3 linked regions of the Homo sapiens genome follow. The protein of the gene in region 1 interacts with the protein of each later gene in a pairwise test. Each region holds a gene or a part of one and is shown in the gene's direction. Other genes may lie near its edges.

Region 1 (7,041 bases):
CAATATCATCTGGACATGATGACATGTTGGTTTAATGGATATACATATCAAGTGATATAGTTATTACATGCAAAGCACATGGTGGGAGCTTAATTATGTTGGCCAGTATTATCACTACTGTTATTCTTTTTACCAGCTATATGGCAGTCTACCAAATGGATAAACCATAATTTTTTTAGCTTTCTTTTTTTGGTCTCCTTAAAAAATATTGCAGTAGGCATTCTTAGACACATATTTTTTCATACTTGTGCTGCTACTTGGAAAGTTTCCTGGAAGTGGTCATATGTGAATTAAGAATTTTGTATATATTGTGAAATTTTCCTACAGAAAAGTTGTACCAATTTACAGTTCAATCAGTGATGAATGACAGTGCTCATTTTCTATATCCTTGCTAACGATTTTTATTATTAGTCATTTAAATTTTTAATAGACTAGAATGGTAAATATATATTTACCAGATAATTGTATTTATTTTTAAAAATTATCTGTTCATACTCTTTGACACTTCCTATCAGTTTTTGTCTTGTTCTTACTAATTTTTTGGAACTCTTCTTATATATCCTTTGCTATTTGTGTTGCAAATATTTTCTCCTAGACTGTGGTTGTTTTTTACCTTTATATACTTGTTTTCTGTCCTATACAATTCTACATTCATGTCATGCTTAGAAAACCCCTCCTAACCCCAAGGTCATTAACATAATATCCTATACATTTTCCAGTTACTTCTGTAGCAGTAACATTTGAATTTTATTTTAAATGTAATGTAAAATAAGTATCTAACTTAATCTTTATCCAAATGAATAACCAATTGTTCTAATAACATTTATTTAATGATCTGTATATATTTTAGTCCGTTTCTGTGCTCTTGTTTTTAACTGATCAGTTTGTCTAGTACTGCACTGTTTGTATTAGGATAGCTTTATAGTATATTTTAATATTTGATAAGGAAAGCCTCCTTCTTCCCTTTTCTTTTTCAAAAGTTTCTTAGAAATTTTTCCAAACTTACTCTTCCCAGTGAAATTTAGAATTATCTCATCAAGTTCCCCTCAAAAGTCTTGAAGGCACTGAGTATATAGATTAACCTAGGGAGGGTTGACATCTTCACAATAAGGTGTCTTCTGATTTATGCACACAATATGCTTTCTCAGGGTTTTTTTTTTTTGTCCTAAAATAAAATCATAGGTTTTAATAAAGGTTGCATACATTTCTTTGAAAATTTACATTTATTTTATACTTTTTGATGCTACCTAAATGGGATCAATGTTTTGAATAAATGGAGACCTCTGAAAGGTACCCCACCCAAAGGAAAATAGCCAAACTATATGAACAAAAGATTCAAGGAAGAGGAAGCTCAGCTTCCCTCATAGTAAGCGAAAACCAAACTGACATAGTTTTTTTCCGTCAGACTTCAAAAAAATAAATAAATAAAAGAAAGAAAACAAAACCACCACCACCAACAAAAAGTGGGTATGAGGAAAAGTCAACCACCACAGCTGCGGAGGATGCCTTGGCTGCACCTATAAAAATTCAGGGTGCACATGGCTTTGACTTAGTAAACCCACTTCTGGGTTCCATGCTAGAGAAACACCCCTGACACAGAATGTGGTCAGTAATGTTCATTTCTCCACTATTGCACACATGTAAGTCTGAAAAGTAAATCTTTGCTTTAAGTAGTTGGTGGTAGTCTATGCTGATGGGAAAATGGAAACACAAAGCTGTTAAATATTTGATTAAAATCACCCAAAAAGTCAGTTCTCCTTTGTCTTTGTCTCTTTCCCCAGCTGCTGAATTTTGTATTTTCTGTTTTTTAAGAGAGTTGCCTTCAAGAAAATGTTTACCAGATCACTCTCAAATGATCTATTGTGAGCATCTCATACTTTTATAACAAAAATTATTTAGAAATAGGATAAATCCCACTGATTGTTTTAAACAGATCAGAGCGACAAACCAGGAGAATGTTGTAGGATTTCTTAGTGATTTTTCCAGGTCTGTATCTTTGCTTTTTGGTTTAAATAAAAAGTAAACATAGAATTTAAGCTGCCATGTAATTTGCCTTCTGCACAAACCCCACTGTCCCCGCCCAGCCTTGCTTCCTGCTCCCTGTGAGGGCAAACACTGAGTCCAGGCTCCCTCTGGTCCCTACCCACCCAGGCTGGCTTGGGTCCTGCCCCCTGAAGCCTTCTCAGGGCACTGCTCACTTAGCCACCTCTTCTCTGAACTCTCGCAGCACTGAGGTGGACATGACACAGTGTGGCACATCATCCATTCTGTCTCTCCCTGTTCCCCTGCATTTGCCTCATCTCCCCTGCCAGACATCACACACCTGCTGGGTTTCTTGTATCTCCCCTCAGGGTAGGGCTGGCCTGGGGACCTGGCACTTTTGGACATGTGGGATATTATGGGAGAAGCTGTATTTCTGACACATCTGATGGTTTCTTAAATGCTTTGTATCTCTTGCAGGTGGCAAAGAAACACAGCATGATGTTTGGAAATATAATTCTTCGATCAACAAGTGGATTCAGATTGAGTATTTAAACATAGGCCGCTGGAGGCATAAGATGGTGGTGTTGGGTGGCAAGGTCTATGTGATCGGAGGCTTTGACGGCTTACAGAGAATCAACAATGTGGAGACCTACGACCCCTTTCACAACTGCTGGTCAGAGGTATAGGACACGATTTCTACCAGTAACTGCCTGTATTATTACTTCAGTGCTTTTTTAAAAAGCTTTGGAACGTGCCTGCCGTGGTGGTCAGCTTTCTGATCACTTTACTTCCAAGGAGAACAGTTTTGGTGGCTCTGAGCTTCCCTCCTCCTAGGAGCTATTGCTTCAGTATTGCTGATCAAGTCACAGAAACAATGTCCTTCCAAGTGGTGAAGGTCTGTGTGGGCACCTGTCCTAATTTGGACAGAACCCCAGATGTGCACAGAGGCTCACCCTGTCCTTAGATGGGAGATCTCTTGGTCTGCATGTCTTGGTGTAGAGTCTTGTCTCCTCAGATGCCTTCTCTCCTATTCTTCTCCACACTGGACACATGCGGATCACTTTACTACACCGTTTATGAACCCAGAGTGATTTGGTCATGTTAGAAATCATCCCTTCTTTATTTTCCCATGGATGATGAGCCACTTACAGGCCTGCATGTCAGACTTTAGTAATGCAACCTCAGGTATATATCAGACCCAGGAAAAGAAAAGCCACCTCATCTCATTTCCAGGTTATTCCCAGTTTCAAATTTTCTTTCTCCTTATCAGATCAGATGTCCAAGCATGTTCCAGCTTAATGGAATGTACAACACAGTCATTGTAGGCACAAGCAAAGGTAGCCAGGTCACCACATCTAGCCAAGACTGTCAGCCTGAAAAGTGCTATATTGAGAGCCCTTAACATGTATGGGGGACATGCCCAGGATCTTCTCAAAACAAGCCCTATCACAGAGCTGCTCCACGATCTAAAAGGATCCTGTAAATAAATGGGCAAGAGGCTCTTGGAAGTCTCCTTTACTGTCCTGGGGTTCACAGGATAGAAGCACACGTCTGACTTAATCTCAAAATCCTCAATGCTGCCCCATAATGGAAGAGTCTGCTTACCTGTGGCCACCGTTTCAGCTTTTCTTCCTAGATATAAGCACCAAGGAAAATCAATGCTGGTACATAGTAGGCATTCCATAAATATTTTTCGAGTGGATGAGCACATGAATGAATATGAATATGCATGTATAAAACATCATTTTCCTCCCACACTGGCTGACTTCATCTGTATAAACTTATTCTTGCCTGAGAGCTGGATTCCGGGAGAGGCTGGCACATCCCAACACACAGCTTGCTCTAGCTTGCGTGGAGCCTGGAGGGAGGGTGGGAAATGCATGCTTTCATTCTTGCTGTGTCTTAAGAGGAGTCAAGCCCATGGGCCTTGTGACTATAGGCAAAAGATGCCCAGTTCTGTGTCCCGGAGCTCTGTCCTGTATCCTGGGAGCTACTGCAGCAATCTGGGCAGCATGACTGACAGCTTCTTCTTGTGCCCTGTGCCTCTACAGGCCGCACCCCTCCTTGTCCATGTCAGTTCCTTTGCAGCCACCAGCCATAAGAAGAAGCTGTATGTGATCGGGGGAGGGCCCAATGGGAAACTGGCCACAGACAAGACTCAGTGTTATGACCCTTCCACCAACAAGTGGAGTTTGAAGGCGGCCATGCCCGTGGAGGCTAAATGCATCAATGCAGTGAGTTTCCGGGACCGCATCTATGTCGTTGGTGAGTAATGGCTTCTTATTGGTCTGAATGGCTTAGAACCTGATGAGCGCCTGGCTGCAGCACGTAAACGGTGTGTCGCGGTGTCTCCAGCGCTGGCAACTCACTGCCCCTAGGACCCACTCTGGCTTTCAGGAGAGCCATCAATCGACTGTTTCTCTTGGCAAGAGGGTAGACTTGGCCTAATCAGAAGTTGAATTTTAGTGGTTAAGAGGGAAGAAACCAGAAAAATGGAGCGATGCCCACCGTGTTTCCTCCCTCTCCTCAGGTGGGGCCATGAGAGCGCTGTACGCCTACAGCCCGCTGGAAGACAGCTGGTGCCTGGTGACCCAGCTCAGCCACGAGCGGGCCAGCTGCGGTATCGCGCCCTGCAACAACCGGCTCTACATCACCGGCGGGCGGGACGAGAAGAACGAGGTTATCGCCACGGTGCTGTGCTGGGACCCCGAGGCCCAGAAACTGACAGAGGAGTGCGTCCTGCCCCGGGGCGTGTCGCACCACGGCAGCGTCACCATCAGGAAGTCGTACACCCACATCCGCAGGATCGTGCCCGGAGCAGTGTCTGTCTGACGGCAGGATGGGGAGCTGGAGAGCCCCCCCGACCCTCAGCGTACCCGCCTCACCTCTCACCCTCCTCCAGTCCCACTTCAGGCAGCAGGCTCGAGTTTGAGGCCATACATCAGGGGATCCCCTTGACTCACTTTGGGGGAACCTTGGAAGTCACAGTTTGGGGTCACTTGAGACCGGCCAGGAATGTTTGCATGACCTACCTCAGGAGGGGAGGCGAGGAAGAGTAATATTTAGCATTCAGGACCCACCCACCCTATGCCGGCTTCTGTGCCAGGCACTTCCTTTTATCGGTTCATTTAACCTGGTGACTGGCTCTTATCACTTCTAGTTTACAGGTGAGGGAACCAAGTTTCACAGAGGCTAAGTGGCGTGCCCCTGATCACTCAGATAGCAAGTAGCTACCCCAGGAGTCTAAAATCCAGGTCTTTCATCTCCGAAGTCAATGCTCTTTCCACCATGCTGCCTATCTCAGAGCAGGAAAAACAAACAAAAAACAACAACAAAACCTGGCTCTTGCTGGGCGTGGCGGCTCACGCCTGTAATCCCAGCCCTATGGGAGGCTGAGGCGGGCGGATGACCTGAGGTCAGGAGTTCAAGACCAGCCTGGCCAACATGGTGAGACCGCCCCGTCTCTACTAAAAATACAAAAATTAGCCGCGTGCAGTGGCAGGCGCCTGTAATTCCAGCTACTCAGGAGGCTGAGGCAGGAGGATCACTTGAACTTGGGAGGTGGAGGTTGCAGTGAGCCGAGATCGCCACACTGCACTGCAGCCCGGGAAACAAAAGTGAAGCTCTGTCTTCAAAACAAAAACAAAAACAAAAACAAAAACAAAGAAACCTGGCTCATTTCTTGTTTCGGCAAGTCTGCTAAAAGATTCACTCAGCACAGCAGGGAAATAAAGGTGTTTCCTGCTTTCTTTCCTTTTCTTTCTTATTCTGCATCCTCCCTCGTCCCCGCCCTTTACCAATATTTAAACCAAGGAGTCATTTGGGCTCCTTGCCAAGAACATCTCATAGGTTCTTCCACTTGAAAGGTCTGGGGGATGGGCTTGGGAAGGCCTGTTTGCTTTGAAAGAGATGAAATACTTGTGTTCTGTCCTCCTCCCATTGAAACCCTCTTTTTTTTTTTTTTGAGATGAAGTCGCCCAGGCTGGAGTGCAGTGGCATGATCTCGGCTCACTGCAACCTCTGTCACCCTGGTTCAAGTGATTTTCCTGCCTCAGCCTCCTGAGTAGCTGGGATTACAGGCACCTGCCACCGCGCCTGGCTAATTTTTGTAGTTTTAGTAGAGACGGGGTTTCACCATCTTGGCCAGGCTGGTCTTGAACGCCTGACCTTGTGATCTGCCCGCCTCGGCCTCCCGAAGTGCTGGGATTACAGGTGTGAGCCACTGGGCCCGGTCTTTTTTTTTTTAAATGATCATAAGATGGCCCATTTTGGACCGGAACTGTCATTGCCAGACAGAATTGTACCTTTAGCACATTCTGGTGCCCTGGCCTCTTAGTGTTCACCAGTTGTACTGCAATATAGACAAGATGTCTCTAGAGACTCAAACTACTGTTTTATTAAAAAAGTAAACACCTGAGCACAGCTGGCCTACACAGGAGCGACAGATTCTCCTTGATGGTACACTTTCTAGTTTTTACACAGTGATTTAGGTCCACGTTCCTGATACCCCATCCTCCTGAAGCCTTCGTTTTCAAGACTTTTAAAAAGCACTTCTACTTGGTTTTTTGATCAGTGTAGCTCAATTGTGACTTAAAGAACAGAATCTGTCCTTCACTGTAAGAGCTACAGCTTTCAAATGAGCTCACTGGAAATTCATTCTAATCCCCAAGCTGGAGAAACAGGTTAAGAGATCCTGTTTCATATGCTGTATTTAAAAAGCAACAATGATAACAACATAGTAACTGCGTTACCCAATGGACTTTATTTTCATCATATGATTTCAATTCTCTTTATAGAGTTTTATTTCATATCCGGTGTGGCTTGTTCTTTTCAGCAGTTTGGGAAGTTAGTTATTAGAGTTGATAGTGAATTGAATTTTCATTAAACAGTCACGGTTAGAAGAAGCTAATATTTGAAACAGATTTTAAAAACTTGAAAAATTACAGGTGAGATTTCTGTTTATGCCAGATTATTGAAGATAAATATAAATGTATGTTGGTGTGTGAAATGCTCTGTGCCTTAGAAGCGTGACAGTTCAGCTCTCTGCTGTGGAAAGTA
Region 2 (5,448 bases), on another chromosome or scaffold:
ACAAATATGTATATAGGACTTTCTTCTTCCTATCCAAATCAAACTTTTAAAGACAAAACTTGAGTTTTTAAAGGGTCATTTTAACACTTCTTTTTGAATTTTTTAATTTATATATAATTCACATACCATAAATTTCACACTCATAAAGTATGTACACTTTAAGTGGTATATTAACAAAGTTTTGGAACCTTCCCTGCTACCTGGTTCGAGAACATTTTCATCACCACAAAAAGAAAGTCAGTATCCATTAGTAGCCATCCCCCATTTTCCCCCCACAGGCCCCTCCCAACCACTAATCTCCTCTCGTTATGGACTTCTCAATTCTGGACATTTCATATAAATGGAATCATACAATATGTGGCCTTTTCATGGTTCATACATGTTGTAACCTGCATCAGCATGTCATTTCTTTTTTATGCCGGAATAATAGCCCACTGTACGGAAAGAAACACATTTTGTTCATTCATCTATCAGTTGATAGACATTGGGTTGCTTTCACTTTTGAGCTATGATGAGCAATGCTGCTATAAAATTTCTTGTATGTTTCTGTGTAGACATATGTTTTCATTTCTGTATACCTGGTGACTACCAAACCTATTTCTAAAACAGCTGCACCATTTTACTTTACCACCATCAGTGTTTAAGAGTTCAGTTTCTCCACATCCTCAGTAATACTTGTCATTGTCTGCCTTTTTGATGATGGCCATCCTGGTGGTATCTTGTCGTGGTTTTGATTTGCATTTCCTTAATGATGATTTGAGCATATTTCCATGTGCTTATTGGTGCCTCGTCTGTCTTCTTTTGAGAAATCTCTGTTCAGGTTCTTTGCCCACCCCCCCCGCCCTCTTTTTGCAAACTCTGCCTCCCGGATTCAAGCAATTCTCCTGCCTCAGCCTCTTGAGTAGCTGGGATTACAGGCGTGCACTACCACACCCGGCTAATTTTTCTTTTTTTGTATTTTTAGTGGAGACGGGGTTTCACCATGTTGGCCAGGCTGGTCTCGAATTCCTGACCTTGTGATGCACCCGCCTCGGCCTCCCAAAGTGCTGGAATTACAGGCGTGAGCCACCACACCTGGCCTTCACTTTCTTCATAGTTTTTTGAAACACAAAAGCTTTTCTTCTTGATAAGTCCAATTTTTCTATTTTTTTTTTAACGGTCACTTATGTTCTTAATGTTATACCTAAGAAACCATTACCTAATCCAACTACATGGAAACTACTTTGTTTTTGAAAACCTTATGAAATAATATAGTAGAAGAAATTGCATTCTCGATTTTGTCTTGGTAGGCTTTGGAAGTGATAAAGCAGTTAAAAGAGAAAATGAAGATAGAACGTGCTCACATGAGGCTTCGGTTCATCCTTCCAGTCAATGAAGGCAAGAAGCTGAAAGAAAAGCTCAAGCCACTGATCAAGGTCATAGAAAGTGAAGATTATGGCCAACAGTTAGAAATCGTAAGAGTCAAATATTTTCTTTGCTTCATGTTACCTAAATATTGTATTCTCTAGTAATAAATTTGTAGCAAACATTTAGATGTTGTAAACGTCAGATATTTTCTTTTCTTTTTTTTTTTTGAGATGGAGTCTCGCTCTGTTGCCCAGGCTGGAGTGCAGTGGTGCTATCTCAGCTCACTGCAAGCTCCGCCTCCCGGGTACACGCCATTCTCCTGCCTCAGCCTCCTGTGTAGCTGGGACTACAGGCACCCGCCACCAAGCCTGGCTAATTTTTCGTATTTTTTAGTAGAGACGGAGTTTCACCGTGTTAGCCAGGACGGTCTTGATCTCCTGACCTCATGATCCACCTGCCTCAGCCTCCCAAAGTGCAGGGATTACAGGCGTGAGCCACCGCGCCCAGCCAGATATTTTCTTAAGACTAAAGGTTGGTCAGCCTTGTTTACCACAAATCCTTTTATTTTTTTCCCAGCATTTATTTTTGTCATATATTATGCGTAGTGTTTTAGATACATGATTTTAGCAAATTTAGCAACTATTTAAAATAAGCCACTTAAAAATTGCTATTTTAGTGGAAGATTGATAATTCCAATTACCTTAAAAATTTTGCAAAAATTAGTACAAAGCACACTATGGAAATTTACATTGAGTTTTCAGAGATAGCTCAATTGCATGCTTTACTCCAGTGCTGATCATAATCCTAAAAGACAATCCCAAATGCCACAATCCCAATGTTGAAATCATAAAAAAATCAAAATCTCTAAAGTCCAAAGCCTGAACTTCTAATATCTTGAAAATCACAGTTCCAAAAGATTGAATCCTGGCTGGGCGCGGTGGCTCATGCCTGTAATCCCAGCACTTTGGGAGGCCAAGGCAGGTGGATCACCTGAGGTCGGGAGTTCGAGACCAGTCTGACCAACATGGAGAAACCCTGTCTCTACTAAAAATACAAAATAGTCTGGCGTGGTGGCACATGCCTGTAATCCCAGCTACTCGGGAGGCTGAGGCAGGAGAATCACTTGAACCTGGAAGGCAGAGGTTGCGGTGAGCCAAGATTGCACCATTGCACTCCAGCCTGGGCAACAAGAGCGAAACTCCATCTCAAAAAAAAAAAAAAAAGATTGAATTCTGAATGATGAAATTCTGAAAGCTGAATTCTGGCAAAAGGATTAGCACTCTTTGAGTTGTATGCAGGATAGTCGCGTCTGGTTAATTGCATCATGTGAGGAAAAGCTAGGACCTTGTTATTGTCTTCATTTGAAAATTAAAAATGGTTTAAAGAGATGAGTCTGGGTGCCAAGTTGATAAGGGGTGGAATTGTGGATGTAATTTTAGGTGTCAACTTGACTGGAAAGGAATCCCTAGAAGCCTGATAAAGCATTGTTTGGGGTATGTCTGTGAGGGTGTTTCCAGAGGATATTAGTGTGTGAACCTGGTGACACTAAACACAGAACATTTTAAAGAAGCAGCGAAACCATTATGTCCTTATGACCTCACCCCACAGCTTCAAACACAGTGTAAATTGAGCTGTCTACAAATTCATGTTTTCAAGGCTTTGCAGCTTATTTATTTATTTATTTATTTATTTATTTTTGAGACAGGGTTTCACTCTTATTGCCCAAGCTAGAGTGCAATGGCGTGATCTCAGCTCACTGCAACCTCTGCCTCCCGGGTTCAAGCGATTCTCCTGCCTCAGCCTCCCGAGTAGCTGGGATTACAGGCATGTGCCACCTCGCCCAGCTAATTTTGTATTTTTAGTAGAGACGGGGTCTCTCCATGTTGGTCAGGCTGGTCTCGAACTCCCGACCTCAGGTGATCCACCCGCCTCGGCCTCCCAAAGTGCTGGGATTACAGGCTTGAGCCACCGCGCCCTGTCTGCAGCTTCTTTTTAAAAGTAAATGAGCTGTAGAGAAGTGTTGAGTATGTGAGTATCCACTGTAGATGTGAACTAACTCATCTGACACTACTTGAAGTTCTAAAATCTTTGCAAAACTGTACACATGGGCCAGGCACAGTGGCTCGTGCCTGTAATCCCAGCACTTTGGGAGGCCAAGGTGAGCAGATAACATGGTGAAACCCTATCTCTACTAAAAATACAAAAAATAAGCCAGGTGTGGTGGTGGGTTCCTGTAATCCCAGTTTCTTGGGAGGCTGAGGCAGGAGAATCACTTGAACCTGGGAGGCGGAGGCTGCAGTGAGCCAAGATCACACCACTGCACTCTATCTCAAAAAAAAATAAATTAACATACACATGGTGTCTACATAAGTCTTCACATTGCTTTTTCTCCTTCATACGTGGAGGTGACTTTACTGAGCTATAAAATGTAATGCTAAATTTTAGTATGAGAAGAATCAGAGTTTTCTAGTTTGTCCCTTCCATTTACAGCTGAAGAATCAGAATAAGTGTTTAAACATAGGGATTAATGCCTTGTCACAGGGGGCTACATGGACACTTGAGGGCAGAGGCTAAACTGGAACCCAGTGTGCCGCCCTACCCATTGTCTTATCTATTGCACCATAGAACTGTGGTATTATTAGAGATCTGGACAGCATTGTGCTTGCCTCAAAGGAAGTTAAAGCTGAGTTTATTCTGTGTCTTGCTCATCCTCATGTGGTAATCTGCTACGTTAAATGTTTCAGGTATGTCTGATTGACCCGGGCTGCTTCCGAGAAATTGATGAGCTAATAAAAAAGGAAACTAAAGGCAAAGGTTCTTTGGAAGTACTCAATCTGAAAGATGTAGAAGAAGGAGATGAGAAATTTGAATGACACCCATCAATCTCTTCACCTCTAAAACACTAAAGTGTTTCCGTTTCCGACGGCACTGTTTCATGTCTGTGGTCTGCCAAATACTTGCTTAAACTATTTGACATTTTCTATCTTTGTGTTAACAGTGGACACAGCAAGGCTTTCCTACATAAGTATAATAATGTGGGAATGATTTGGTTTTAATTATAAACTGGGGTCTAAATCCTAAAGCAAAATTGAAACTCCAAGATGCAAAGTCCAGAGTGGCATTTTGCTACTCTGTCTCATGCCTTGATAGCTTTCCAAAATGAAAGTTACTTGAGGCAGCTCTTGTGGGTGAAAAGTTATTTGTACAGTAGAGTAAGATTATTAGGGGTATGTCTATACAACAAAAGGGGGGGTCTTTCCTAAAAAAGAAAACATATGATGCTTCATTTCTACTTAATGGAACTTGTGTTCTGAGGGTCATTATGGTATCGTAATGTAAAGCTTGGATGATGTTCCTGATTATCTGAGAAACAGATATAGAAAAATTGTGCCGGACTTACCTTTCATTGAACATGCTGCCATAACTTAGATTATTCTTGGTTAAAAAATAAAAGTCACTTATTTCTAATTCTTAAAGTTTATAATATATATTAATATAGCTAAAATTGTATGTAATCAATAAAACCACTCTTATGTTTATTAAACTATGGCTTGTGTTTCTAGACAACTTCCTAACTCCCTTTCTTTTCTCTGCCTGTGTCTGTGGTAGGGTTAGGGAGTTGTCAGGAGAACTGAATAAGTCCATATGAAGAGTGCTTAGAACAGGGCCTGTACTTGTAAACACCTGAAAAATTTTTGCTAACACTTGGGATGTAATTGGGAAGAATTATTTTAGTATTTAAACACTTAAATGGACAAGATGCAAGCTTTTAAAAATCTACTTCAAGGCCAGGGGAGGTGACTCACACCTGCAATCCCAACACTTTGGGAGGCCGAGGCAGGCGGATCACCTGAGGTCAGGAGTTTGAGACCAGCCTGACCCACATGGTGAAACCCTGTCTCTACTAAAAATACAAAAATTAGCCAGGCATGGTGGTGCACGCCTGTAGTCCCAGCTACTCGGGAGGCTGAAGCAGGAGAATCACTTGAACCCAGGAGGCAGAGGTTGCAATGAGCTGAGAATGTGCCACTGCACTCCAGTCTAGGTGACAGAGTGAAACTCGGTCTCCAAAAAAAAGAAAAAAAATCTATTTCAAAAGAT
Region 3 (4,081 bases), on another chromosome or scaffold:
CTCCTTGGTGGTCAGAGGTCAAGCAGCCCATGTGGCCCACGGTCCTGAAGAACTGGGCTATGTCCCTGAGGCTCCTCTCTACCGTCTGACTGTGGGGTCTGGGGAACAGGCATTTAAACCAGGCTGCTGCCCTGGGGAGTGCCCACTGGACGCCAGGGTGCCCCATAGGGACAGGGTCACAAAGCCCTGGGGCTTCCCCTGCCAGTCCTGGTGAGGACAGTGTGGTCACTATCTCAGAGAGACGAAAAATGAATATTCTGTCATTTCAGACTAAACTACTCACCCAGCTCACACTAATATGGATTTGTTAATTTTACCTTTTTTTTTCTTTCCAACTTTAGGTTCAAGGGTTGTTACATGGGTAAATTGGATCATAGGGGTTTGGTGTACAGATAATTTTGTCACCCAGGTAATCAGCATGATACCTGATATGTAGTTTTTCAGTCCTCACCTTCCTCCCACTCGGTTTTATTTTTTAGTACTGAAAGTTTAACAGATTGGTCTTACCTCAGAGGGAGGGAAGAAACCCCCCCATCGCTGGGCTCCTTGGTGTGACAGGGGTCTGGTAGGGGTTTTCAATCCCACCACCCATTCCTCCACACCAAATGCCTGAAGTCCCCACTTTGCACAGGGAGACAGCATCGTGCCAGGGAAGAGAGGTCAGGCCCGGCTACCCCTCACAACTTCCTGCTTCCCCCTCAGAGGGTGATGGGGAGACCAGAGCCCATGGCAGGATGAACTGTCACTGAACCCAGCTGGCACAGGTCTGCCAGAACACTCTGGGGGTATGCGCTGGGCTTTCTGGGTAAACCCCTGGCAAGCTGGCGTTTGCTGTCTTCTCAGTGCTGATGGAGATAGGCACACATGGGGTGTGGGAATGTGGCCACCCTCAGGCAGGTTCACGAGGGTACTGTCAGGCGCTCAGGTGTATGCCGCCTCCTGTCAGGCAGGGCTGAGGCTATTCTCCCTGGAGAAGGACAGCTTAGGAAACACTTGCAGGAAAGCTGCCTGGACCTGGGAGGTGACCCTGGCCAGCCTCCCTGCTGCCTCTCTCAGTCCTAGGCCTTCTTCCCCAGAGCTGGTCAGGGCCTGAGGGACTTTGTAGTCTAACCCCTCATTGTGCTACAATCACAGGAGTAAGTAACACTCCCAAGGCCATGTGGCTGGTGACTCGGGGGGCCCAGGTCCAGGATCCTGCCCCATCTGCAGGCCAGTGGTTCCTTGTCTCCTATTTGCTTCTTGGAGCAGCCTCCTCATAAGCCAACAGCTCCTTCACCTGAGCCCAGTCACTTTGCGCTCCTCCCCAGAACCAAAGAGCAAGACCATCTGCCCCAGGTACAGTCCTGGCCATGCCACACTCTCTGTGGCATCATGACCAAGGTGAGTGGCAGATACTGAAATCATCCAGGGCCACTGCAGGCCCCATTCCCAGTGGACTGTTCATCAAGGGACCCTGTCTCAGGCCATCTCAGCCAACCTTGTTGCCCAGCACAGGTCTGGCACATTGGAGATGATCTGTGTTGGATGGGGAAGGCAGAGGGAGGATCCTCCAGCATTGATCACCCATCAAAACCCTCAACAACCCAGACATTGCCGCTGCACTGACCCCATGCTATGAGGAGGTCACTCAGGCTGTTAGGAGCCTGCTGACTCAGGCATTGGGCTGGGGCCCTGCCTGCCTTGTCTGCCTGCCAGCGGAGCACTGCCCCAAGCCCTTCTTACTGCAGAGACAGGCTCTTGCCTCCCAGTGTGCACTTTGTGCAAGACACAGGCAGGTAAGGGTCTACCAGAGGACAGGAAGTGTTGTTGGGGCACTGTGGGGTTTGGAGGAGGCCCCTCTAGCAGGGAAAGCGAGCCCTAACCTCTGCTGGACTAGGGAGTTTAGGAAGCTGCTCTGGTTCAGGGAACTGGGGATCCAGATAACTGGGGATCAAGGCCATCTTGTGACCCCAGTGGTGGTCCCTAGTGGGACTGCTGAGCTCCAGCCTGAGAGTTCATGAACTCAACAGTGATTGCTTGTGGGTACTAATGACCCAGTGTGTGGAGACCTCATTTACCAGGTGTGCCTAGCCTGCAGGCAAATCCCAAGGCAGTGACCCTTAGGGAAGAGACAGCGTTTGGGGTCATCAAAGGCTGGGAAACCCAGGTACCTGTCAGGGAATGGGCTACAGACTGGAGCTAAGCCTTAAGGTGGGGAAGATTCCAGCACCCCTGAGTGACCACCTCTTTTGGTAATGCAAAGAAGGGATTTTGTGACTCCAGGGTGACATTTCTAAGCTTGGCATCATGCAGGGTGGGCTTGGGCTCAATATGGGTGACTGTTAGTCTAGGGCTGTCTCAATGAGGCTGTCCAGGCAGAAAGGCTTACACACCTGGCAGGCAGAGGGTCTAGAGAGGAAGGGGCAACAGGCCTAAGGAGGGGACAGCCAGGCAAGGAGGTAGAATAGGCCTTGTCTGGACAGTGGTCACCTGTTAGGTCCACAGCTTGTCCTCCCTGGCCTGACCAGCCAGGTGAGGAGAGATCCAAACCATCCACCTGAAAGCATTCAGGGTGCCTGATGACAAGACCCCAGCCACTGTGGGCTCTCATGTCCTGGTAGGAAGGTATACCTAAAGCAGGTGGACCTGGTAGTGGTGGACGCTGTCTGCCTCCCCGGGGCTTGTCTGTTTATGCCAGACCGTTTTCCCATTTGCTTCCACCTCCAGCTCAGAGAGGAATCACCTTCACACCTCTGCTAAAACTAACCCAGCTCTGCACCCACCATTCCCCACTGTGCAACACCTGCTACTGGAGAACCCTGCCCCCTCAAATACACGTCATCCTCAGGGCCCTGCGATGTGCTGTGGTCTCCCTGCCACCATTCAAGGGGCCACAGCCAGGTCCAGCCTGTCTTCCCTGGCACCAGGCTCTATGCAGTGGGGGAAACTCGGGCACCCCTAAACTATTCTCCAGTGTTCTCACCAGAGGTGGTCAGCCATGTGATGGCAAGAGTCACTTCTTAAGCTTTTGCTATCCCCAGAAACTTAAAGCAACACCAACCACACCCAAAAGTCAAGTGATATCCAGACAGCAACAGTAGAGCATTAACTGAGTGCAGGGCCGTGGTGACTCCTCGACACTCCAGGCTCTCCTGCTGGTAACCTCCCATTGGCAGAGCCAGGCACTCAGCAAAGCCCTGGACAGTCAGCAGCCTCCTGAACAGGCTCTGCTGTCCCCACTCACGACTTCAGAGCAGCTAGGACTCCTGTGACCACCCCTGTCCCCTGTTCCCCCCCACCCCGCCCCGCCCCGCCAACTGCCTCATCTCTGTCCCAAGATAACTGCTCTCCAGAATTTTCCATGATATGGTCATTTTAAAAGTTTTTTTTTTTTTTGAGACAGAGTTTTTCCTGTGTTGCCCAGACTGGACTCAAACCTCTGGGCTCAAGTGATCCTCCTGCTTCAGCCTCCCAAGTAGCTGGGACTGTAAGTGTGCACCACTGTGCCTGGCTTGATGGTGTCATTTTTCACTGTACGTGTATTTGTAAACCGTATAAATCAGTATCTTTGTGAGTTGCTTTTCTTTCTCCCTTACCTTCATGAGCTGTCTGTGTCCATACACAGTCTCCTCTGCTCCCCTAGGTGGGGTGTGATATTCCATTGAGTAGATATCACAGTTTATTTAACAACATCCTGTTGGTGAGTACTTAGGTTGGCCCCAATTTCTCAATATTACAACAATGCAGCAGTCATTCTCAAGTGTGAGAGATTCCCTAGGCATTTCCTGTGAGTGGAGTTGCGGGGTCACAGGGCATCCTCTGTACCCCTCCTGCGAGTGGGTCTTGTTGCTCAGCTCCTCACCATTTTAATGGACTCTGTAATGTTTGCAGTCATGCTGAGTGTAAAGTTGGATTGCCCATGCATTTCCCTTGTCATGGTGAGGTTGAACTCCCATTTATATTTTTATTAGGCATTCAGGTTCCTTCTGTGAATTTTGTTTCTATTTTTCACCATTTATTCTACTAAGCTGTTTGTCTTTTATTGTTGACTTGTAGGAATGTTCTGAATACAACCCTTTGCAAGTTGTATTTATTCCAGAAC

Evidence for each region. Proteins that work in one complex are often made in the same cells at the same time.
Region 2: the proteins of KLHL6 (region 1) and SBDS interact in binary tests that used the Homo sapiens proteins (3 or more experiments, as listed by UniProt).
Region 3: the proteins of KLHL6 (region 1) and NUDCD3 interact in binary tests that used the Homo sapiens proteins (3 or more experiments, as listed by UniProt).

What each region holds. Positions count from the first base shown.
Region 1 is NC_000003.12:183,489,701-183,496,741, reverse strand, and holds part of KLHL6 (kelch-like protein 6), read left to right. Parts: intron 1-2,460; coding exon 2,461-2,663; exon of another isoform or gene 2,664-4,034; coding exon 4,035-4,248; exon of another isoform or gene 4,249-4,513; coding exon 4,514-4,815; 3' UTR 4,816-7,041. UniProt on the Homo sapiens protein: Involved in B-lymphocyte antigen receptor signaling and germinal center formation.
Region 2 is NC_000007.14:66,987,143-66,992,590, reverse strand, and holds the end of SBDS (ribosome maturation protein SBDS), read left to right. Parts: intron 1-1,289; coding exon 1,290-1,454; intron 1,455-4,091; coding exon 4,092-4,220; 3' UTR 4,221-4,911; downstream 4,912-5,448. UniProt on the Homo sapiens protein: Required for the assembly of mature ribosomes and ribosome biogenesis.
Region 3 is NC_000007.14:44,378,582-44,382,662, reverse strand, and holds the end of NUDCD3 (nudC domain-containing protein 3), read left to right. Parts: 3' UTR 1-3,544; downstream 3,545-4,081.